Homo sapiens: one gene and its partners. The protein of the gene in region 1 purifies or fractionates together with the protein of each later gene. This does not show direct contact. Each region holds a gene or a part of one and is shown in the gene's direction. Other genes may lie near its edges. The genes, in order: STRA6, GPR89A, CCR9, MTMR1, CMKLR1, TMEM154 and TRDN.

Region 1 (3,500 bases):
CAAAGGGGAAAGAAGAACAGACTCAGGAGAAAGTCTTAAGACATAGAGGCCAAAGGGCGTGGCTTCTCTTCAGACAGGGCAGGGGAAGGAAAGGCTTGATGGGAGGCACCTGGCCAGCCAGCAGGTAGGTGGTGGTGCCAGCTGCTGGCCCAGGGAAGGTGGAGGGAGGAGCAGGTGCTCCTGGGATGATGCTTGGTCCTGAGGGTGTACTGCTCAAAGTCTGGAGCTCAGCAGAGGGGCTGGGACCGGGTGTTAACTCGGCAAGGTCAGACTGAATCCAGAGAGTGAGTGAGATCCCTAGGCAGGATGGAGAACCCCGGGTCCCTTTTGGGCTACTCTGGTCCGAGAAGGCCCACGGACTCCAGACTCGGCTCCCACGTGGCAGGCAGGGAGTTCTGAGCGCTTGTAGCTCCTGCCTATTGAGGCCAACACCCCTCGAGGAAGCCTGTGTCCCCTCCTGTTTACAGCTGGCTCTGAAAAGGGAGCGGCCCCCCGGGACGACACAGTGCCTGAGGCATGCCCCTTTACCTTCTCTTCCAGGGTTTCCACCACCCCATCTCTCTCTCCATTGCCAGCCTTTCCTCCCAGGCTTGAGAGGTGTACAATCCTCTTTGGACTTTGGTCAAAGAGGTTTAAGTCTCAAAGGACCCCCATCAAGCTTTGAGCTGACCCACTCCTGCCCGGGATCCCAGGGTTGTCATGGCAACAAGTGACAACAGCCTGTGTTCTCCCAGTGATTCCAGGCAGGGGCTCACCCCATCTTCCCATGGGCCTCTGCTACTTCACAGGCAGCTTAAGGCCTGGAATGTGGCTTAGACAAATCTGGTCACCCTTGTGATCTCCCTTGCGCAGTGGCAGCAGGAGAAGCCTGAGGGTGTCTGACCTGGAATGACCCTCTTCTGTGTCCTGGTCTAGGATGTGCCCGTGGGACACAAGCTTCCCTTTGCCCCAGTTTCAGCTAGCAGAGGCCAGAGGGCTAGGGGTGGGAAGAAACGGTGAAGAGATGTGACTGAGTAAAGCAGGCGAGAGTTGGAGACAGATCTTAGGAAGAACTTCCTGGCATTGATGGTTCTTTGATAGGAGACTGGCCTTGTATTTGTGAGAGAGAAAAGGGAAGCTTTGGAGGGCACGGACCTCATCCCCACAGGTCAGCCCCATCCACACTCACCACCACCGCCATGGCCAACAGGTTTTTATGGAGCACCTGCTTGGTGAACACTCTAGTTCCCTGAGCCAGGGACCCACGAATGGGTCGAGGCAGATCTCATCTGCTTGTTCAATTGTCTGTCTCCACAGGGGCTGCAGAGCAGCTACTCTGAGGAATATCTGAGGAACCTCCTTTGCAGGAAGAAGCTGGGAAGCAGGTGGGGTCTCTGACACACCCTTTGTGGGCCAATGGATTGGGCTGGTTAGCAGCCGTGCTTGGGAAGCTGGCACTGGGCAGCATGGCAGGGGCAGAGGGGAAGAATGACCAGCCTCTGGGGCTGGCCCTCAGGGAATGGGCTTCCCCTGAGGACCCCGCACCTGCCTGGGTCTTTCTGCAGCTACCACACCTCCAAGCATGGCTTCCTGTCCTGGGCCCGCGTCTGCTTGAGACACTGCATCTACACTCCACAGCCAGGTATGGGGTTGGGAGCTGAGGCCGAGCGTGACAGGGGACGTTACCCTCCCTTGCACAGAATGGCTGCAGTGGAGGACTGGCTCCTGCTCCCCAGAATCCTTGTCATCAAGAGGGACAACTACCAGCTTGGGACAGCGGGAAGACCCTGGCCTGGCCTTGGTCATTTAGGGTCCTGCTGGCCCTTTTCCTGGGCCCCTTGGGAGGGAGGAGGGCTCCCGGGCCTGAGTGGTGCTGTTCACCATACTCCTTCCTTTGAGGACTACAGGATTCCATCTCCCGCTGAAGCTGGTGCTTTCAGCTACACTGACAGGGACGGCCATTTACCAGGTATGTCCCTCACCCTGTACTGCCATCTGCCTCTGGAGCCCTGCCCTCAACCCCCAAGCCTGGAGCAGTTCCGGCCCAACCCAGCTCTCCAGGTGCTCCATCCAGAACCCTGACCAGGTGCTGCAGGCCATCTTGGGAGTTCTGGCCTACCCAGAAGGGCCGGGGTGTTCACTCTTGGACTCATGAAGTGACTCGGAGCATTAATTTTGGAGGCCACATAAACACGAATTTAAATCCTAGCTCCACTATTTACCTCCTGTGTGGCCTTGGGCAAGTTATATAACCTCTCTGAACCTGTTAGCTCATCTGTAAAAAGGAGAAAATAGAATAATTTTCCTCTTTGAGTAATTGGGAAGATTTAGCAAGACAACATGTTTGATAAACTCTGCCTCACCACCTCCGAAAAAAAAAAAACCCCGAAAAAACCAACAACAACAATTAAAATCCTGGGAGATGGGTATGATTATTCTCCACTTTACAGATGGGGAGAATGGAAGCTTGGAGAGGTGAATTTGACTTGGCCAAGTTTCTGCACAGCTAATATCTCAGCGTAGCCTAAGTTTGAATCCAAGTCTGTCCAGCTTTAATTCCTGTGCTCATTTACTTTCACAACATAGAAAAACCAGAAATTTTACATTCCAAAGTTTAGATAGATAGATGATGGGTAAATAGATAGAGGTGCAGACACAGTCATCCCTCAGTATCTGAGGTGGGTTGGTTCCAGGAACACCCCTCCATACCAAAATCCAAAGGCTCAAATTTCTGATATACGATGGTGTAGTATTTGCATATAGCCTACACACATTCTCCAGTATACCTCGTTATCTCTAAAGTACTTATAATATCGAACATAAGTGCTATGTAAACAGTTGTCCTATGTCTGGGTGTGGTGGCTCACACCTGTAATCCCAGCACTTTGGGAGGCTGAGGCGGGCGGATCACAATGTCAAGAGATTGAGACCATCCCAGCCAATGTAGTGAAACCCTGTCTCTACTAAAAATATAAAAATTAGCTGGCGGTGGTGGCGCGGGCCTGTAGTCCCAGCTACTCAGGAGGCTGAGGCAGGAGAATTGCTTGAACCTGGGAGGTGGAGGTTGCAGTGAGCCGAGATCGCGCCACTGCACTCCAGCCTGGCCACAGAGCAAGACTCCATCTCAAAAAAAAAAAAAAAAGAAGAAGTTGTCCTACTGTATTATTTTTTATTTGTATTATTTGTATTGAATTGTTATTTTTTATTGAGGGTTTTTCCCCAAATATTTTTGATCTGCGCTTGATTGAATTGGTTGGTTGTGGATGTGGAACCCACAGATACGCAGGGCTGACTATATGAAGTTACGGTGCTCGAAGGCATGCCTTTGGCCTATTAGGCTGTGATTGCACCTGTCTGTAATGTCCTCATTTAGAGGCGTGAGATCCCTGCTCTAAGGGGCAGATAAGAACACTGATGGGCAATGGGCATGTGGCTGGGGCCTGTGTGCTGCCAGTTTCTTCCCCAGCGTCTCCCCTGTTAGCACAGAAAACCCTTTCCTGGGATGGGGCCCTCACTGTGGG
Region 2 (3,500 bases), on another chromosome or scaffold:
AGACTCTGGAGCTAGACTGCACTTGAATCCTGACTCTGCCCCTTTTATCTGTGTGGCCTTAACTAAGTTACTTAACCTCTCTGTGCCTCCATTTCTTCATCTGTAAAATTAGGTTTTCAATAATATCTACCTCATAGGATTGTTATGAGGGTTAAATGAATTAGAACATGTGAAATGCTTAGAACAGTGCCTAGTCATAGCAGGTGCTTGGTGAATATTACCTATTGCCATTACAATTACTAGTGAAAGTAATTTCATTCAATAAAGAAGAATGGGAAGAAAGCTGGATTGCAGTCAGTTAAGGAATGAACTGGAGGTGAAGAAAAGGTGACAATAACTATAAACTTCTTTTAAGAAGCCTGGCTATTAAGGAGGAAATAGATGGGGGTTGGTAACTAGACGTAAACTCGAAGCCAAGAACAGAATTTCTCTTAGAAAAGAGAATTGAAACTAAAGAGAAAGAACTAGCAAAGAAGGAAATATTGAATATACAAGAGAGAGGAGACAGATGATGGAACAAGACTCTGAAAGAGGTGGAAGGGATTGAATACAATCAAAAGTATGGTGACTGCTAGTTCCAAGATGGTGGCGTAGGGGCAAGCTGGCTTTGCTTACCCCCCTGGCAGAAAACCAAAAACAAATAGCACCAAGATTATCACTAGCAATATCCCAGAACTCACATATAAGGATGAGACAGTTCCCAGGGCCCAGAGAAGATCAGAAGCACAAGTGGAGAAGTCAGCTTTGGATGCTACTTTGTTCTAAGGGAGACAAGTTGGGAGGATGATTGCAGATGTATATTCAATGTTATAAAACAGCCCATAAAACAAAGATTGGAAAATGTTGAATTTTGCAACCAGGAGAAAATTCATGACCATAGTGTAGAGTGAAGGTAGTTTATGGCTAATAGCTATGTCTTTTATAATAAGGACATTGGCAAAGGAGAAGGACAAAGGTAGGAAAAATAAAGAGTAACTGCCGAAGACAATGGAGAGAGATGGCTGACCAAGGGCAAGATAAGGATTAGTCAATAGTGTGAGAGCTCTCTTAGGACTGGAGACCATACATTTGTAATGGCTCCAAAATCAGTACGCATTCTAGCAATTTGAGGCAGCAAAACATGGGCACAGGGAAGGCAGAGTGTTAGACTGATCCAGAGTTGGGAATTTGTAGGATTAGCGCTTCAGAAGGAAGATAGTAGGAGATTGAGGCTCCTGGTGAGAGAATTTGAAGCCAGCAAGCCTGGAGTCCAAGCTAGGTGAAGAATGGAGAAGCAGAAGACCAGAGGTTGCACTGACCTCTAAAACGAGTGTAGTGGAAATAGAAAGACTAGGAATGGAGGCCAGTAGTCAGAAAAGGAATATTGGAATTTTCAGTTTTGAAGCTGACAGAATTCCTGAATTATAGCTCTGGCATTTGACCATAGGAGTGGATGGCTGTAGTGAATTCTATCCTAGAAATAGAAAGTGAAAACCAGTTAAAACCATTCTTTTTCTGCAATGCCAAACTTACTGAGTTATTCTTCAGCATTGCTTTCTCTCATTTATCCCAAATACATCAACCAGCAGTATTTATTTTAACTGCTAAGTTGATTTTCAGCATTCTCACGTGATATGAAACAATTGATAATTAGGATACAATTTATAATCCGAAACTGATGTGTTTGCCTTTGAATTACTCATTCATCTATAAGTTTAGTCCTTTTATTAGATGAATTCTGTGTTTATTGGATGCAAAAAAGAATAAGACAAAAGCAAAAGAGTATCACCTTAGGGGAAATACATATATATCAAAGATAATTAGCACAAAGTAGTTCCTGCTATTTATACTTTTCCAGCAGATTTACTTTCTTAGTTTTTTTTTTTTTGGCCGATGCTTTTACTAAAAGTACTTTGCTTTGTTAGCATTCATGCTACCAAGAGTAAACAGTCAATGATTGTTATTTATAATTATTGTTGTTATTATTTTACTGCTATCACCCAATAAAAGAGATCACTCTGAAGCATATGGGACAGGAGGAAAATCAGTAAACTTTTAGTATATTTATTATAAATCATCTACACATTAATAATTAAAAGTTGGCTTGTATGAGTTAGTTATGTGTAATGGTTAATGTTTTAAATAATGTTTCCTTTTGCAGTACAGATGAGAGCCATTTTGTCTATATTACCTGGCATTAATGTGCCTTGATGTTTTTAGGGATCTTATCCATAGAACAGCTCATCAGCCGGGTTGGTGTGATTGGAGTGACTCTCATGGCTCTTCTTTCTGGATTTGGTGCTGTCAACTGCCCATACACTTACATGTCTTACTTCCTCAGGTAACAGAGCGCTTTGCATCCTTTCTTTTTTGCCCCATTACTTCTTGAATACATATGTCATATTATGCCACCATCTTTAAGATTATATATTAGATCTATGACACTGTCTTTTTATTCTTCTCTTCCTCTGTCCCTGTGGGCATTGACCTGGAAATCTTTCTAAATAAGTATTATCACTTGTACGGCTTGCCTTTATTATTTGTCCTACATTCATTTATTTTTTAAATGGCAAATTTCAATCTGACACTCCCCTCCCACTTTTTTAAAGGCACATTTCTAGTGACCAGCAGTATAAACCAACTCCAACTTCAGCAGTTCAGCTCCCCTCCTAGATATTAACAGAACAGTAGAAGACAATGCCAAGTTAAAAGTGTGCTTAAACATACATCCTAAATGTCACTGAGCTGAGATCATGCCACTGCACTCCAGCCTCGGCGACAGAGCTAGACTCTTTCATAAATAAATGACGGGTTGATGGGTGCAGCAAACCATCATGGCACGTGTATACCTATGTAACAAACCTGCATGTTCTACACATGTATCCGAGAACTTAAAGTATAATAAAAAATAAAATAAAAATATTTAAATATATATTTTATATATATATATAAATGTAACTGGATCAAAGCTAAGAAAAACTGTAAGAGAGCTGGGTGAATTCCATTTCCCTGAGATCCCAGAGGATTAGCTATAAGAAATGAGAGCAAAGGCATTTTAGTTTATTATGGTCATTTTACTATTTTCTAGAAAAAAGTAGTAGGTAACAGTTGAAGTCTATGTTTGTCTCCAGATACCCTGTATCATGCCCAAGAGTGGGACCCCAAAACATTTTGCTAGCAGTTTGTGCTTTTTGTAGGAATGTGACTGACACGGATATTCTAGCCCTGGAACGGCGACTGCTGCAAACCATGGATATGATCATAAGCAAAAAGAAAAGGTAAGATATCAACACTGTAATACATTTGGACTCTTACAATTTCTCAACAAGAAAATTTGACTGTGAATTGGTGCTGGCAGGGAATTTTATCTTATTCATTTTTACTATAAGGTAAAGTACCAGATTTAGTGTTGGCTGGACACAGTGGCTCACACCTGTGATCCCAGCACTTTGGGAGGCCACGACGGGGGGATCATTTGAGCCCAGAAGTTCGAGACTAGCCTGGGTAACATAGTGAGACCC
Region 3 (4,109 bases), on another chromosome or scaffold:
TTAACATCCACAAGAGTGTAGTCATGATTTTCCCCCAGAACAAATATATAAAAGGGATCTTTGTCATAACAATGACAGGAAATCATTAATCACATCAGGATTGAAGTCCCCACTGTAGCAGTGGATGGGAAGACTTCGTCTGTGATCTTCATTAAAAATGCAATATTTTGTATATTTAGCTTTTTTCAAAGTTTTACCAAAACACCTGTAATTAATACAATTTATTGTATTATCTTTGTTAATGTATCTGATGTGCAAAACCTTACTAGATTTGCCCCAATTTGAAGGTGTCTGTGGCTTTCCAGCACTCCATGTGTTCCTAGCTACATCTCACAGGCAGACTTTCTAAAGCAGTGCCTTTCAATAGCACTGTTGGCGACGATGGACAGGTTCTGTATCTGCATTGTCCATTGGGATAGCCACTAGCTGCATGTGGCTATTGAGCACTTGAAATGTACCTGGCATGACTGAGAAACTAGTTAACACTTAAAACATTTTTCTTTTTTGATACAGGGTCTCAGTCTGTTGCCCAGGGTGGAGTGCAGTGGTGCAATCTTGGCTCACTACAACCTCTGCCTCCTGATCCTTCCACCTCAGCTTCCCTGAGTATCTGGGACTACAGGCATGGGCCACCATGCCTGCCTAATTGTTTTTGTGTGTTTTGTAGAGATGAGGTTTCACCATGTTGTCCAGGCTGTTCTTGAACTCCTAGGCTCTGCCTAGTGATCTGCCCGCCTCAGTCTCTCAGAGTGCTGGGACTACAGAGGTGAGCCACTGCACTGGCCCTAGTTAGCATTTTAATTAATTTGAATTTAAATAGGCACATCTGCCTAGTAGCTACTGTGTTGGATAGCACAGCCCTCCGGGTTCTGGTACGTCTGTCAAGGCCAGAAAAGGTATGTTGCGATGGATAGTGCTACATCTGCCACTGGGTGGTAATCTGATACAGGCCTGCTCAGGTGACACCACCTAAAGAAATCTCATCAGTGTGCACCTCTGGCAAGCCTGACAAGGCTGACTTCTCTCGATGGGATCCTCCAATTTCCCCATTCCCTGTAAGCAGCTGTGCTGTCTAGGAAGAGAATTTGCTCTTAGATCATCAGTCTGTATGTGCGTCTTCAGATGAGACAGTTTCCCCTTATCCCAGCAGTTTTCAGCTTTTTGTTTCTGGTTGCAAATGATTGACTCCGCTGATTGCTGGAAGCTACACAGGTGACTCCCCACCCTCTTGGGCTACCCCACCAGTGACAACACAGGCAGGGGTGGCCTGGCTTCCTTTCTCGTGTTGTTATCGGGTAGCTGCCTGCTCAGAACCCACAAAGCCTGCCCCTCATCCCAGGCAGAGAGCAACCCAGCTCTTTCCCCAGACACTGAGAGCTGGTGGTGCCTGCTGTCCCAGGGAGAGTTGCATCGCCCTCCACAGTGAGTATTGCTCTTCTTCTTGTTGCCCCCAACCCAGTGTCATCTTGGCCCTCAGTTGTGTGCTGCTATGATGGCTTCTAAAACCTGGGCTTGCACTCATTTGTTCAGAGGTCATGGGCACCAGGCACTTTTCTAGAAACTTCCAGGAAGGTAAATGGGAATTGGTGATGCCCAACCCAGGTTTCTTGTAGGGCGAGTAATAAAACTCCCTCCCCCTTCACATACATGAAGCTTAGGCTTAAGGCAGTCTGTGATTTATACCTTAAAGGAAGGAGAAGCAGGTGCTGGGGGACAAGATGGTGGCCAGGGGTAAAGGACACACCCATGAGGTCCTTGAGTCTGAGACACTGCCCCATGGAAAGGATTCTTTGTAGCAGTGAAAAACTGGAAACAAGGAAACTATGCATCAGGAGGCGAATGGTTAAATGAATTGTGATGTATCTAGACAATGGAATACACAGCAGCCATCCAATTCTATGATACGGTTCTATGTTGAATTGGCATGGAAGGTGATCCATGAAAGATGGGCAATTAGAAAGCAAGATAGAAGATTATATGTGTAGTCTGATTTCCTTTCTATTAAGTGCGTGTGTGTCTGTGTGTGTGTGTGTGTGTGTGTGAGGTTGTGTTACAGAGAAAAAGTCAGAAAGGAAGTATCTCAGAAACTTAACAATGGCTAAACTAGGAAAGGGTGCTTCAGGAGTTTTTATTTTCTATATTATGTATGTTGGCATTTTGGGGATTTTTTGTGCATTGTAAAAATACTCCTTTATGATCAGAGTAAAGCAAAAAGTTATTTTAAATGACTCATCAGTGGATGCTGGTTTGCCTTTTCAAACACACCTACCCTCTTTAGTTCTGAATTAGCTGTTACTCCATAGACGGCTGGCAAGTCCATCCAGAGAGTGGTCACTGTGTGCTGAACCGGAAGGGCTGTGCAGCAGCCAGTCTGTGGGATCCCATCTCCTTACTCCCTTTCCTGAACGAGCAAAAGCTAATTTACTATTTCAGCATCTGGAATTTCGGAGTCCTTTTCTTCCAATATCTGCTTATCTGTTCTGAAGCCTCTTTGTGTAGGCCTCACTCACAGGCTTGTGTTGGGAGCCCCTGGGCCCTGTGCAGCCCCTGCTGGGCGGTTGGCAGGCATCTGATCCAGGCATGGTGAGTGGATGGATCTGATAGATGGCTCAGAGACCCTGCCTCGTGTAGGGAACAAAAAGCAGAGCTATGAAAAAATGTAAGAGATGATTCAAGCTCCGTGTAGCAAATTGTACAAAGTTCAAAGTAAGGACCTGCATTCCTGACTCATGTTAGTATCTGATTTGATGTTAGTGCTGTAAGCATCAGAGGCTATAAGTGTGGGGAGATGCTGTGTGCACAATAACCCCATGCTGATTTTCATGTTGGCTACGTAAGAATGTTAGAGAATACAAAAATAGTGATTGGATAATAATAGGTTCCAAGCTAACTTTTCTAATAGGCACTTTTCTCTTTTGGAGAATTAGCAGCTCTCTCCCTTCCTTTATCTCCCAGGTCCCTGCACATACCCCATGCTTTCTGACTTTCATGCCTTAGTGCATATGTTTTCCCACCCTGGAGCAATGTTCCCTCCCCTCGTTGCATGTCTCCATGCTCTTCGGCCTTCAAGGACCCGCAAAAATGTCACCTCTTCAATGAAGCCCTCCTGGATTCTCCCCAGAGCTAAAGACATGACCTCCTTCTTCCAATTCCTACCACAACTCATAGCACTTTCCCTTTGTTGTTATTTGCAGCCATGACTTACTCAGTGTATTTGAATGCAAGCTTCTTGAGGACATGGATCATGTCTTACACATTGTTTAAGCCAAATAAATGTATCAGGTACTCAAGGCACATTGAATAAGTGGGTTCGATGGATGGCCCATGGCACCTGCAACAAGGCCTCACTGAGCAGCAAGGGAGAGATTTGCCACAGTGCTGAGTCAACTGCCCATCCACTCCCGACAGACCGCTGAGATGGTCCTCACTCTCAGTATGTTTGGTCATATGTGGGATTTTCCCCCCTATATTTTTCCCGCTTTCTCACTGGCAAGACAAAAATGAAAGCAAGCACTGAGACTTAGTAGCTGGGAGAATAAAATATTTGAGAAGTATTCTGACAAAAATGAAAGAGAAATAGATGGCAAGGCTGTCTGTGGAGGTTCTAGATGTGGGCTCTAGGGAGGGGTATGTCCTGTTTTTACTCTTTGGCTCTCTCCAAATTTTCTATGAGCCAGAAGCAGATGCATATTTTATAAACTGTAATATATTACATTCTATTATACACCATAATATATTACATGATATATACTATTTGTTTATTTATTTTAGAGACAGGGTCTTGCTCTGTCACTCAGGCTGCAGTGCAGCAGTGCAATGTTAGCTCACTTCAGCCTTGAACTCCTGGGTTCAAGCGATTGTCCTGCGTCAGCCAGCTGAGTAGCTGGGACTACAGGGTAGGCAACCATGCCTGGCATATTTTTAAATTTTTTGTAGAGATGGGGTCTTGCTCTGTTGCCCAGGCTGATCTCAAATTCCTGGCCTCAAGTGATGCTCCCACCTCAGCCTCCCAAAGTGTTGGAATTACAGGCATGAGCCATCTTGCCTGGCTTGTGTTTATATATTACCTTTAAAAAAAAAAATAAAGAGAAACCTTTATAGAAAGCTAG
Region 4 (3,500 bases), on another chromosome or scaffold:
AAGTATCTATTCTTGTCCTTTGCCCACTTTTTAATGGGGTTGTTTGTGTTTTTTCTTGTAAATTTGTTAAATTCCTTATAGATGCTGGATATTAGACCTTTGTCAGATGCATAGTTTGCAAATATTTTCTCCCATTCTGTAGGCTGTTTACTTTGTTGATAGTTTCTTTTGCTGTGCGGAAGCTCTTTAGTTTCATTAGATTCCATTTGTCAACTTTTGCTTTTATTGTGATTGCTTTTGGCATCTTTATCATGAAATCTTTGCCAGTTCCTATGTCCAGAATGGTACTGCCTAGGTTGTCTTCCAGGGTTTTTACAGATTTGGGTTATACATTTAGGTCTCTAATCCATCTTGAATTGATTTTTGTATATGGTGTAAGGAAGGGATCCAGTTTCAGTCATCTGCATATAGCTAGCTAATTATCCCAGCACCATTTGTTGAATAAGGAATTCTTTCCCTATTGCTTGCTTTTGTTGAAGATCAGAGGGTTGTAGGTGTGCACCCTTATTTCTGGGCGCTCTATTCTGTTCCACTTGTCTATGTGTGTCTGTTTTTGTACCAGTACCATGCTGTTTTGGTTACTGTGGGCCTGTAGTATAGTTTGAAGTCTGGTAACATGATGCCTCCAGCTTTGTTCTTTTTGCTTAGGATTGCCTTGGCTATTCTTTTTGGTTCCATATGAATTTTTAAATAGTTTTTTTCTAGTTCTGGGAATGTCATTGGTAGTTTGATAGGAATGGCATTGAATCTATAAATTGCTTTGGGCAGTATGGCCATTTTCACGATATTGATTGTTCCTATCCATGAGCATGGAATGTGTTTCCATTTGTTTATGTCATCTCTAATTTCTTCGAGCAGTATTTTGTAATTCTCATTGTACAGATCTTTCACCTCCCTGGGTAGCCATATTCCTAGGTATTTTATTCTTTTTGTGGCTATTGTGAATGGGATTGCATTCCTGATTTGGCTGTTGGCCTGGCTGTTGTTAGTGTATAGGAATGCTAGTGATTTTTGTATGCTGATTTTGTATCCTGAAACTTTATCAAAGTTGTTTATCAGCTGAAGGAGCTTTTGGGTCGAGACTATGGGGTTTTTACTTTTTAGAATTCTATTTTATGTCCTGTGATTGCATATTAGCTATAATTGTTTGTTTTGTTATGTAACTAGTTATTTTACATCTTTATGTCTACCTTCAAATGATTGTATGCTGCTTCATGTACAGGATAAGAACCTTATAGTAGTATACTCCCATTTGTCCCCTCCTACCCTTTATGCTGTTGTTGTCATCCATTTTACTTTTACATATGTTATAAACCCCACAATATATTGTTTTTGTTTTTGTTTAAACAGTTATCTTTTAAGGATAATGATAATAATGCCTTAGTCTCCTACAGAAGCACTTGCCAATCCACTCCCTGCCAACTTCTCTGGCCTCATATTCGACTGTCCTCACTGCACCCATTGATCCAGGCATACTAACCTCTAACAACTTATCACTGTGCCCTTCCTCCCTTCCTTCTCTTACTCCCCCTACCCACTTTCCTATTGAGTTAAGTTGATCCTTTTCTGAACTTCCATTGTAATACTTTGTGTCCACATTGTTATTTTAGCTTTTGTCAACCTCTAGTGCAGGGATCCCCAACCCATGGGCCGTGGATCAGCACTGGTCCATGGCCTGTTAGGAACGGGGCTGCACAGCAGGAGGTGAGCAGCGGGCTAGTGAGCATTATCGCCTGAGCTCCGTCTCCTGTCGGATCAGCGGTGGCATTAGATTCTCACAGGAGCGTGAACCCTGTTGTGAATTGCGCATGTGAGGAATCTAGGTTGTATGTTCCTTATGAGGGTCTAATGCCTGATAATCTGAGGTGAAACAGTTTCATCCTGAAACCATCCCCCTACCTCTGCCCTGGTCCATGGAACAGTTGTCTTCCATGAAACCAGTCCCTGGTGCCGAAAAGGTTGGGGACCTCTGCTCTAGTATAATGGCGATTTTTCTGTGTGGTATCTCTCACAGGTCATGGGCTGCTCATGGACAGGAACTTCTTCCAATTATACCCAGAATCCCAGCAATAGAAGGCTCTCAGTACATAAGGAGTATAGAAAAGTTCAATGGAAGTATTCTGAGAATTTGGTTCAATGACGTTAATGCCTTTTGTTGTCTCACTTGGACTCATATATAGCTATGTATATTCTTGTCATTCCAGTGGAATGGCACTTTGGGAAAACATGAAGATGTGGTATCTTTGTGATAGAAGTGAGCTTCTTAACACTAATGGGAATTAAATATGTCACGCACTTAATAGATATTGACAAAAAATTAAAACTGATAAGGGGATAAGGAATTTGAAATAAGTCTTTTTCCATTTCATTGATGTGGTTCTAGGTTTTGTCTTCTGTAAAAAGAGTTTCCTTTGGAGATGCATTAGGAGACAATCTTTAGTTTTCATTAGTTTTAAGTAGCAGTAATTCATGAAACAGTAGCCCAGGGTTTTCAGAGTTTAATTAATGTTTTGAATATGATTAATTTATCACCCAGGGAAAATGTTAACTACCTAGGAAAAATGACAGAATATAACTTCTTATGAGGCCCTTTACTTAAAACCTCATTAAGTAGCAAATCAGAATTTTGTTTTAAAAAATTGAAATTTATTAGAAGACTATGCATCTCTCTATATTGAAAGTCATAATTGATATAATCCTATAAAATACAAAATTCCTGGAAAACTGGAATCACAAATATATATTTGGAAAACTCGTGTTAAGTTTTATGGAAGCACAAGTCTATGGCAGTAGTTGCTACTTTGGCCTTTTTCTTTCAGTGAAAGATGTCATGTATATCTGCCCATTTATGGGAGCAGTGAGTGGAACCCTGACAGTGACGGACTTTAAGCTGTACTTCAAAAATGTCGAGAGGGTGAGTTTTTTAAAGTGTGTTTTATTTTAAAAGAAACACTTTTAAAAGAACACTAAAAGAAGAAAGTAAAAAGTCCCCTGAAATCCCATTACCCTGAGATAACCACAGGTTGGATTTTGAGATGCACACATTTGCAAACAGATGTTTGTATCTTGAAAACAAAGGCTGTTAAAGTACCGCTTAAACCTGGAGGGGAAATTCCATTGTTGTCTCAATATATATTTCACAAGGAATGCTGTCAATCAGACTTCAATTTAGCTGGGACAAAGAGGAAATGCGAAGTAAACAAACATGTTTTGTAACCCAGCAAAGACTTAAAATATGAAAACTGTTGACTGACACTAATAGGCATTGATCTTAATTTTTGAACCTAGGACCCGCATTTTATCCTTGATGTTCCCCTTGGAGTGATCAGCAGAGTGGAGAAGATTGGAGCACAGAGCCATGGAGACAATTCCTGTGGTATAGAGATAGTGTGCAAGGTATAATAGAAACGCCAAGTGAAAACTAAAAGAGGGCAATCAGCTCTGAACTTTTTCTCCCTCAGTCTCTTCATGGTCTTTGGACAGTAGAATAATTTGTACTG
Region 5 (3,500 bases), on another chromosome or scaffold:
GACAGGATGTATTAGTCAGGGTTCTCTTAGAGGGTTCTCTTACGGTTCACTCTCTACATATAAAAAGGGGGAGCTTATTAAGTATTAATTTACATGATCACAAGGTCACACAATAGGCCATCTGCAAGGAGAATCAGTCTGAGTCCCAAAACTGGAGAACTTGGAATCCGATGTTCGAGGGCAAGAAGCATCCAGCATGGTAGAAAGATGTAGGCTGGGAGGCTAGGCCGGTCTCTCCTTTTCAGGTTTTTCTGCCTGCTTTATAGTCTCTGGAAGCTAATTAGATTGTGCCCACCGGAGTAAGGGTGGATCTGCCTTCCCCAGCCCACTGACTCAAATGTTAATCTCTTTTGGCAACACCCACACAGACACATGCAGGATTAATACTTATTATATTTTAATCCAATCAAGTTGACACTCAGTATTAACCATCACACAGGGTCTCACCACATTGCCCAAGCTGGTCTTGAACTCCTGGACTCAAGTGATTCACCTGCCTTGGCCTCCCAAAGTGCTAGGATTGCAGGCATGAGCCACCGCATGTTTTTGCGGTGAGCCCGGCCACCTATTGTTTTTGTGAGCATGTGCAAGTCACATACATATAACCTCTTTAGGCCTCAGTTTCCTCCTGCCCAGGGTTGTTGAGAGAGTGTCTGCCATGTTCTTTGGCCTGGAGTAGGTGCTCAGTAAATGACTTGGGGTGGGGAATAAGGGCAGGGGACACTCAAATGCCCATCCTTTGTTACCTGAATTGGTTTGAACAGTTATCAGAATCTATGAATTCCTGAGTGTTATATGAAGTAAGAATTCAGGTAGCAAGTGTATATGTTTCCTGTTACTGCTATAACAATAACCATAAACCGAATGGCTTAAAACAACACAAACTTATTATCTTATTAGTTCTGGAGGTCAGAAGTCCCAAATGGGTTTCACTGGGCTAAAATCAAAGATTGCATCTCTTCCGGAGGCCCTAGGGGAGAATCTGTTTGCCCTCCTTTTCCAGCTTCTAGAGGCTGCCACATTCCTTGACTCATGGTCCCCTTCCCCAGCCTTCAAAGCCAGCAACCGCAGGTTGAGTCCTCGTCACATCAAATCACTTTGACTCTCCTGCCTCTCTGTCTCATTTTTAAAGACGCTGAGCTCACCTGGGTAATCCAGCATAATCCCACCATCTCAAGATTCCTAATGACGTCTGCAAAGTGTCTTTTGCCATGTAGGATGACATATTTACAGGTTCTGGGGATTAGGATGTGGACATCTTTGGGGATCTGTTATTCTGTCTAACAGTGACATTGGTCTGCATCTGATTGTTTCTTGAATTTCGAATTTAGATATTGGGAGTTCAGGTGGCCATCTATTGACAGTTGGTTCAGCAGAGTATTGACCAATTAGAATGGATGCAAGTGTAGCAACCAGTGAGGCTTTACCAGGGAGTATTCAGTGATTATCAGGACCGAACCAGGAACCAGACTTTGGCATCATTTAGACTGCGTTCACGTCCCTGCACTTATGAACCTGCTGACTCTGAACGAGGGGGTTCTCCCATCTGTGAAATGGGGATGGCGGCATGTTGTACATAGGGTAGTAGTTAGGATGGAAGGAGATAGTAAGAGTTAAGTGTCTGGCACCTGGTAGGAGGCTCAACAGGAATGAATGATCCCCCAGGAGTTTAACTTCCCAGCTTGAGTCTCTCCATCCCAGGTACTGGTGATTTCTAGTTATGAGAACCTTTCTGTCTCTGCCCCATGCTAGGGAGACATGCTTGTCTGGCTCATGGGCTGCAAGGAGCACAAGGGCTCCTTCTCTTCCCCCCTGTAAGAGAGGAGGTTCATTTTTGAGGATGTGGATGCTAACTAGGAGGGGAGAAGGTGCCAGCTGCCCAGCCAGCCTTGTGTTTGACCTGGAAGGCTCTTGGGATATGTGTTGGCTTGAGGGCTGGATTATCTTTGTCCCCTAGGCTGCAGGAGCCTGCAGCCCCCATTCAGCTGTTCTACTATCAATGGGGCTCAGTGTCTCCTATGTCTACCTCCTTCTGCTCCCAGTCCTGCTACCAACTGCTCTACTTTATTTCCAAGTCACTGTTTATATGCCCCAAGAGGGGCTACCTCATTGGTTCATGTAATCCTTCCAGGGTCCCCACTGGATCCCTGCTGGGGTTCTCTCTGATGGTGGATGGATTCCCTCTGAATCTGGAACTTGCATTTCTAGAAGGTCCCAGAAGAATCACGAATTGGCATTGAATTGAATTGGCACTGACCTTGACATGATCTAGTCCAGGGATGGAAGTCCACACCCCTCACCATGTGCTGTGGCAGACATCACACATCAGTCATGACTTTTCCTCTAGTTGAACCCAGATGTCTTTGTCATTTATCTTTGTGGATCAAACACCCCCAAATTTAGTGGCTTGAACTGACTTATTCATTTATAATTATGCAACTTAGCAGAGTTCTGCAGGGACAGTGCATCTCTGCTCCACATAGTGTTGGCTGCGTTACTCATGGGCTGCATTCAGCTGGGAGCTTGACTGGGGCTGGGATATATAAGATGATCTCACATCCTGGAACTTGTGTGCTCTGTTTCTCTCTTTCTCTCTCTCTGTAGCCCATCTCTCCAGCAGAACTGCTTGGATTTTTCTACCAGGAGGCTCAGGGCTCTGCAACAATGATAGCAGAAGCTGATGGCATCTAGAGATCTAGGCTGGGACTAGCACAGCATCACTTCTACCACTTTCTGTTGGTCACAGCAACTCACCATGCCAGTGCAGATTCAAGGGGAGGAGAAATAGAGTCCACTTCTTGATGGGAGGCGTGACATGTGAGTATTGGGGCAGGGTGGGATGTTAGAGTCTATCTTTAAAGACAATCTACCATCTTCATCTTAAAACAACGAATGACAGTGGCCATCTGAGATAATCATTTGTCACCCTAAGTTAGACTACACTCCCATTTTTCAGATGGGAAAACTGAAACTCAAAAAGGATTTGTTTAAAGGAGCCTCTGTTCACTTCACAAGCATTTACTGAGCACTAACTGTGTGCTAGGAGCATGGGATACAGGGAGCTCCTGTTGAGTGGGAGACAGGTGAGTAAACAGACAGAGTGGAGGCCCATCTAGCCAGAAGGTTGGCTTTAATGTTGGTTGCTTGGGGCAAATTTTGCTCACAGGTCACAGTCACCCATGATGATTCCATTCATCATCCATTCAGAACAGTAAGTGACTACTGGGCCATTTTTACCAAGTGCTTATTGTTAAATACCCTCCCACTTATGCCTGCTTGATACATTTAGTGTGCAAAGTACTGCAGGAGTGAAGTGGAGGTAGCTTTCACTGGGGAAGCCAGGAAATAGTGCTTCGAGAAGGAAGCATATATTCGAGCTGGGTTCAAAGGGTGAATTGGCCTTCAGTTGCTTATAGGAGCAGTTGGCTAGACATGAGAGAGATTTTAGGCAGGGAGAGCTGCATGAACACAGATCCAGAGACTTGATGAGTGCAGGGAGT
Region 6 (3,500 bases), on another chromosome or scaffold:
TGGGCAATCACCAGGCCCCAAATGGCACACTCAAGTACTGCACTGGGAGAGAGCTGGCCTGTGCAGACCTGTTCTTTGACTCTCTGGTGGGGCATGCAGTAGCTGGCTGTAATAGGTAGGGGTGAAGCAATCCCCAGGCTGCTGATAGAAAGCTCAGGTGAAGGCAGCAGTGACTACACTGCTGCCTGCTACTGCAGAGGATGGGATTGCTTTCAGTGGGAGCAACCATAGGCAGCCAGCTGGGGCTATGCTTTGCTCATGCTTTGGCCCTAGCAGCAGCAGTTTATAGCAGCAATAGCTGAGGACAGTGGAGTTTGTCCTTGAGGCACATAAACATGTGTGAGCGCCCCGCTGCTGGCCAGGGGTGGGGGGAGGGGTGCTGCCAGCGGCTCCTACCTTGGCCCTGGCAGCAGCAGCCAGCAGCGCTGGTGGCTGCAGGCAGGAGCTCCAGAGACATGGAGATTCAGGGGCTGTTGGGCCCTAGGGCAGGATACAGTCTGGTGGGGGCTGGGCCCTCAAAGTGGCACTGTGCTGCAGCCACTAGGGCTCAGGGGTGTGTGGGACTCCGCATAAGGTCCCTCTCTGGAGCAATGCCATTGCACAGTGTACAGGCGCTCTCAGTGTTAGTCTCAGGGCCTGTGAGAGTTGAGGGGCTCTCCCGTGGCTAGGCTGCAGGAGTCTGCAGTGGAAATATGGACCACTACCCTTTCCCCACATTGGGGAGCTTCTCCTGGCTCCCAGCCAGTCTCAGCCAAGAAGGATGCCTTATTTCCCTCTCCTTCCGTGCTTTAAGTGTTGTCTATTACTACTCTGTTGAATTCCTGTGTTCTCCCTTAAATGATCAATTCAAAATGTAGCTTATCTACTCAGTATTTTTGTTATTTTTTGTGAAGAGGTGACTGCCAGATGCATCTAGTCAGCCATTTTGAAGCCCCTCCACTCTTCAAACATTGGTAGTTTTTTTTTTCAATCCTGCCTTTGGCATATACACATGAGAAACACCAGTGAGTTTACTCTGTAGTTTGTAATTGATTCTGATGGTTTGGGGTTGCATTTACTAAAGGGATTATCAAATGAATTCCCTGATGTGGGAGACTGAAAGTATTTATTCATACAATCAACACAATTAGATTCTTACTGTCTTAGCTCAGATACCATAACAAAATACCACAGACTGCAAGACTTAAAACAACAGACATTTATTTCTCACAGTTCTGGAGGCTGGGAAGTTCAAGATCAAAGGTGCTAGAAGATTTAGTATTTGGTGAGAACTCTCTCCCTGGCCTGCAGTCACCACCTTTCCGTATCCACATATGGCAAGGAAAGAGAACTCTGGTTTTCTTATCTTCTCATAGGAGCAATAATCCTGTCATAGGGTCCCCACTCTCATGACCTCATCTAAACCTAATGACCTCTCAAAGGCCTCACCTCTTAGCCCTAATCCATCACATTGAGGATTAGGGCTTCAATATATGAATTTGAGGGGAATGCAAACATTCAATTCATAGCAGTGACCAAACATTTTTATTGTTTCAACCAAAATCAGAGGACTCCATTGTCATGGGATTATGAAGATAGATGAACTATTGAATTGGCTCTGCAATGTCCAGTTTGATCATTCTGTAAAGTAATTGCCTAACCTATACCGCAGAGTGTGGTTTAAAGCAGCTGACTTCTGTATTTGCATAGTTCCTTTCACCTTAGAATAACTTTCTTGTAAATTATCTCATTTGATAAGTTTTCTGTAGCATCAACTTACGAGGTATTTTCCTCAGTTGGCCCCTTCTGAAAGGTAGACAACATTATACGATATTAGGACAAAGACCTTCAGCTTATCTTACCATGACTACTGCTTAGACAGGTAAGGAAAAGTTTTTCAGATAGTCATCAAGTCAGTAGTCCTTTCTCATCCTGATGGTTTTTATTTTCCTTTTCTTTTTTCTTTTTCTTTTTTTTTTGAGATGGAGTGTCGCTCTTGTTGCCTAGGCTGAAGTGCAATGGCGCGATCTTGGCTGACTGCAACCTCTGCTTCCTGGGTTCAAGCAATTCTCTTGCCTCAGCCTCCCAAGTAGCTGGGATTATAGGCATGCACCACCACGCCCAGCTAATTTTTGTATTTTTAGTAAAGACAGGGTTTCACCATGTTGGTCAGGCTGGTCTCGAACTCCTGACCTCAGGTGATCTGCCCACCTCAGCCTCCCATAGTGCTGGGATTACAGGCGTGAACCACCATGCCCGGCACAGTCAATTCATTTTCAAAGAATTATTTTCCATTGATAGGTAACCTTTTATTTAAATATTAGGACACAGACAGGCGCAGTGGCTCACACCTGCAATTCTAGCACTTTGGTAGGCTGAGGCGGGTGGATCACTTGAGGCATGGAGTTCGAGACCAGCCTGGCCAACATGGTGAAACCCTGTCTCTACTAAAAATACAAAAATTAGCTGGGTATGGTGGCACATGCCTGTAATCCCAGCTACTCTGGAGGCTGAGGCACGAGAATTGCTTGAACCCAGGAGGTGGAGGTTGCAGTGAGCTGAGATCATGCCACTACGCTCCAGCCTGGGCAATGGAGCAAGACTCTGCCTCAAAAAAAAAAAAAAAAATTAGGACACAGAGTGCATTTCTTTACATCTAAAAGTGCTGTATGGCATGTACTTAATTTTAGTAAATGTGAATTTAAATTTATTCAGACATTTTGTTAAAATATTATCATACCCTATAGGAGATGTCCTGTAATATCACATTACTTGGCTTGGAAAATCACCCTTAACATGAGGAAGCTTCCGAATCCACTTTGCTTAAGCGTATCTAAAATGTCTGGTCAATGCAAAACTGCCTACCTTTGTGCAAGGTTTTTCTCTGAGCTCTGATTCCATATTCAATACACTCCCAGCTTGAGCTTCATTTATGTTAAATCAATGTTCTGTGTCACACTTAGCTTGGAGGCCAAGTATAGTGGGTCAAATTTATCACAGAATGTATCTAGGAATAATTTAAAAATCATTGACAATATAACATACTAACTTTGTCTCCATGGAAATTTCAATTTTGTATCTATTCCCACAGGTAATTATGAGGAATTAGAAAACTCAGGAGATACAACTGTGGAATCTGAAAGACCAAATAAAGTGACTATTCCAAGCACATTTGCTGCAGTGACCATCAAAGAAACATTAAATGCAAATATAAATTCTACCAACTTTGCTCCGGATGAAAATCAGTTAGAGTTTATACTGATGGTGTTAATCCCATTGATTTTATTGGTCCTCTTACTTTTATCCGTGGTATTCCTTGCAACATACTATAAAAGAAAAAGAACTAAACAAGGTAAATATTTGGTGTATTTCCATTTCCAGAAAATTGCTTCATGTGTTAGTGAACAATCAATAAAACAAAATATTCTTTGCTTTGATACAGAACCTTCTAGCCAAGGATCTCAGAGTGCTTTACAGACATGTGAGTATTATCCTAAAACCTGCCTACAGGTGGGGGTGGG
Region 7 (2,556 bases), on another chromosome or scaffold:
TTTCTCATTATTTCGGTTCTTCCAAATTAGACATTTTTGTTCATATGGTAAAGCAATAAATTTTAAATCTGTATTTGCATTAAAGTCATTGCAGAACAGAATAAAGGAAGCAATTTTTGAAATAGGTATAACTGAAGTTTGTGTCACATAATGCTTTTAAAGTAAAGAGCTAGATATTTGTCTGAAGAAATGACGTCTCTTGATTCTCCAGTGCTTTTTGGATGTTTTTGTGCAGGAAATTACTAAAGTGCCCCTTACAATAGCAAATGCCTCCTACTCTGTATTAATAGGTGATTCATTAGACAGATACTGAATGCCTACTATGTTCCAAGTACTTCTTTGGATGCTGGAACTACTGCAGTAGATAAGACACTTATTATAATCCTTCATATAATAAGGTTGTGAGAAATATAGGGAAATAAGCAGAGTCTTATGATACTTTGAGTAATATTACAAAATCCATAAGAAAAAGAATTATAGGTCAATCTGGACATATTTTCATTTTATATAGCAACGCTTTCCCAATTATTAACCTACTGGTAATAATTTGTGGCTATGTCACATAAACATTTGAAATCTCATATATTTTAAATAACTATTAAAATATAATTCAATGAGACAGGTGAATTGTATCAATACCAGTTTCCTAGTTGGAATATTGTTCTATAGTTTTACAATATGTTACCATTGAAGGAAACTAGGTGAAGATATGTGGTATCTTTCTGTATTAACTCTTACAATTACATGTGAGTCTACAATTATTTCAAAGTAAAAATTTTAATTAAAAACAAAACGCAAATACTTTTAGTAAAATGGTGTCAAATATTCTAACCTCAGTTGGGGGATCTATTGCATCAAAATGATATTTGCTATCTTCGTCTTACAAGAAGGCAGTTCTATAGCCTGATATTCATGAGCCTTTAATTTAAGCTCTAATATTTGCAGTCATAATAATATTTTAATGAGTAGCTTATTCAACATCAATTAAATAAATGTGTCAAAACAGTGTCCACTTCTGATAAGCAGCTGGAAGGCAGCCTGTCATTGATGGGCCCTTCTACTTTTAGCAATGGATTTCCATTTCTCCTTGTGCAGGGCCGGCTTTACTACTGTCCCTCTTGTAGCCTGCCTAACCCCCAAGCTCCCATAACCTCCACAAACTTGAAGAGACGGAAGTTGTATTATTGCTTCGGTTTGAAGATAGAAGAAAAGAGAAATCATTCCAGATGAGATGCATTGGAAAAGATAACTAAATTCAAGATTCTTCAAACTATTGTCATCCCTGAAAACCCAGTGACCCATGGAAATGGAATCAGAATACTCCCTGGTTGCTTCTCCAGCTTCCTTTTTTCCTATCCTTTGCTTTATTCTACTTCATAAACCCCTAGTCTCATATGGATTTGGCCATCTTCTTTATCTCCCACACACCACTAGCTTTAACTATGATTTTTCTTTCCTGGCCTTCTGCAAAAATCTATGGCTGGTTGACAGAATGCAAATGGATAGGATAGAAAACACTGGAAGTTTGTAGGCACCCAAGATTGTGAGGAGATGCTAAACTCGCCATCTTTTACCAAAGCTGCTACCTGGGAGCACCGGCTTACTGAGTCCAGAGTCCTTACTTGCACCACACTCCCTTAACTTTCCTGTTTTGCTTTCTACTCAGAGCTGCTACCTGGCTGCTACCTTTGTTGCTCAAAGAGCAACCAAGCCACCTTAGGAAAGCTCTTGCCTCTAAAGTAAGGGCAAATAAAACTTCTAGATGTTGGCACCACCTCTCTGTGACATTATAAAACACACACACACAGTCTGTTGCTTTGCATATTGATAAGCTCATATTTTGAAACCTGTGACTATGTCTCTATGATTGCTATGCACATCAACAGATGTCTATATGATCAGAACTTTGACTTTCTCTGCCAGGCCATTTTTATTATCACTTATTAAAGGCTTATTACATACCAGGAAGAATTTTAAGAGCACATGTAACTCATGTAACTCATTTAACTGTCATAATATTTCTGTGCGGTTTTCGTTGTTTTGATGTTATACATAAAGACTCCAAGACACAGTGAAGTTTAGTAACTTGCCAACAGCTACGGAGGCTGCTGGCAGAATCTGTGACCTTATCTGCTGCACTGCACTGCCTCACTGTGCTTTTTTGCTCATGTTCTGCATGTTTTAACAAACTGTCATGCTCTGTTCCTTAGGTCCCATCAGTTTCTTCCAGTGTGTCTACTTGGATGGGTACAATGGCTATGGATTTCAGTTTCCTTTCACTCCTGCAGACCGCCCTGGAGAGAGCTCTGGTCAAGCAAATTCTCCAGGACAGAAGCAACAAGGACAGTAAACACACATGTATGACCCTTACAAGTGCTTTAAGATTTTAAAAATGTGATGTTTTGTCCACAGTAGTTCAGGCAATTAAGAATATGCAACCCAGAGAATTTCTGTGAAAACATTTTGCTCTTTGGCCTGGTGTGGACGGAAAGGGTGGCCAAATGGATTGAGTGATGAGCAGACATGTTTAAGGGTCTAAGTCTCAAGAATCTGTTA

The links.
Region 2: the proteins of STRA6 (region 1) and GPR89A purify together in Homo sapiens (affinity purification with mass spectrometry, with the first as the bait; one large-scale study listed by BioGRID). This does not show direct contact.
Region 3: the proteins of STRA6 (region 1) and CCR9 purify together in Homo sapiens (co-immunoprecipitation; one large-scale study listed by IntAct). This does not show direct contact.
Region 4: the proteins of STRA6 (region 1) and MTMR1 purify together in Homo sapiens (affinity purification with mass spectrometry; one large-scale study listed by BioGRID and IntAct). This does not show direct contact.
Region 5: the proteins of STRA6 (region 1) and CMKLR1 purify together in Homo sapiens (co-immunoprecipitation; one large-scale study listed by IntAct). This does not show direct contact.
Region 6: the proteins of STRA6 (region 1) and TMEM154 purify together in Homo sapiens (co-immunoprecipitation; one large-scale study listed by IntAct). This does not show direct contact.
Region 7: the proteins of STRA6 (region 1) and TRDN purify together in Homo sapiens (co-immunoprecipitation; one large-scale study listed by IntAct). This does not show direct contact.

What each region holds. Positions count from the first base shown.
Region 1 is NC_000015.10:74,189,288-74,192,787, reverse strand, and holds part of STRA6 (receptor for retinol uptake STRA6), read left to right. Parts: intron 1-1,296; coding exon 1,297-1,364; intron 1,365-1,544; coding exon 1,545-1,621; intron 1,622-1,886; coding exon 1,887-1,948; intron 1,949-3,500. UniProt on the Homo sapiens protein: Functions as a retinol transporter. Accepts all-trans retinol from the extracellular retinol-binding protein RBP4, facilitates retinol transport across the cell membrane, and then transfers retinol to the cytoplasmic retinol-binding protein RBP1.
Region 2 is NC_000001.11:145,628,488-145,631,987, forward strand, and holds part of GPR89A (Golgi pH regulator A), read left to right. Parts: intron 1-2,199; coding exon 2,200-2,320; intron 2,321-3,176; coding exon 3,177-3,257; intron 3,258-3,500. UniProt on the Homo sapiens protein: Voltage-gated channel that enables the transfer of anions such as iodide, chloride, bromide and fluoride which may function in counter-ion conductance and participates in Golgi acidification.
Region 3 is NC_000003.12:45,885,234-45,889,342, forward strand, and holds the start of CCR9 (C-C chemokine receptor type 9), read left to right. Parts: upstream 1-1,309; 5' UTR 1,310-1,422; intron 1,423-4,109.
Region 4 is NC_000023.11:150,724,396-150,727,895, forward strand, and holds part of MTMR1 (phosphatidylinositol-3-phosphate phosphatase MTMR1), read left to right. Parts: intron 1-2,819; coding exon 2,820-2,914; intron 2,915-3,288; coding exon 3,289-3,396; intron 3,397-3,500. UniProt on the Homo sapiens protein: Lipid phosphatase that specifically dephosphorylates the D-3 position of phosphatidylinositol 3-phosphate, generating phosphatidylinositol. Could also dephosphorylate phosphatidylinositol 3,5-bisphosphate to produce phosphatidylinositol 5-phosphate.
Region 5 is NC_000012.12:108,329,312-108,332,811, reverse strand, and holds part of CMKLR1 (chemerin-like receptor 1), read left to right. Parts: intron 1-2,604; 5' UTR 2,605-2,817; intron 2,818-3,500. UniProt on the Homo sapiens protein: Receptor for the chemoattractant adipokine chemerin/RARRES2 and for the omega-3 fatty acid derived molecule resolvin E1.
Region 6 is NC_000004.12:152,652,498-152,655,997, reverse strand, and holds part of TMEM154 (transmembrane protein 154 precursor), read left to right. Parts: intron 1-3,070; coding exon 3,071-3,331; intron 3,332-3,421; coding exon 3,422-3,460; intron 3,461-3,500.
Region 7 is NC_000006.12:123,218,395-123,220,950, reverse strand, and holds part of TRDN (triadin), read left to right. Parts: intron 1-2,210; coding exon 2,211-2,350; 3' UTR 2,351-2,556. UniProt on the Homo sapiens protein: Contributes to the regulation of lumenal Ca2+ release via the sarcoplasmic reticulum calcium release channels RYR1 and RYR2, a key step in triggering skeletal and heart muscle contraction.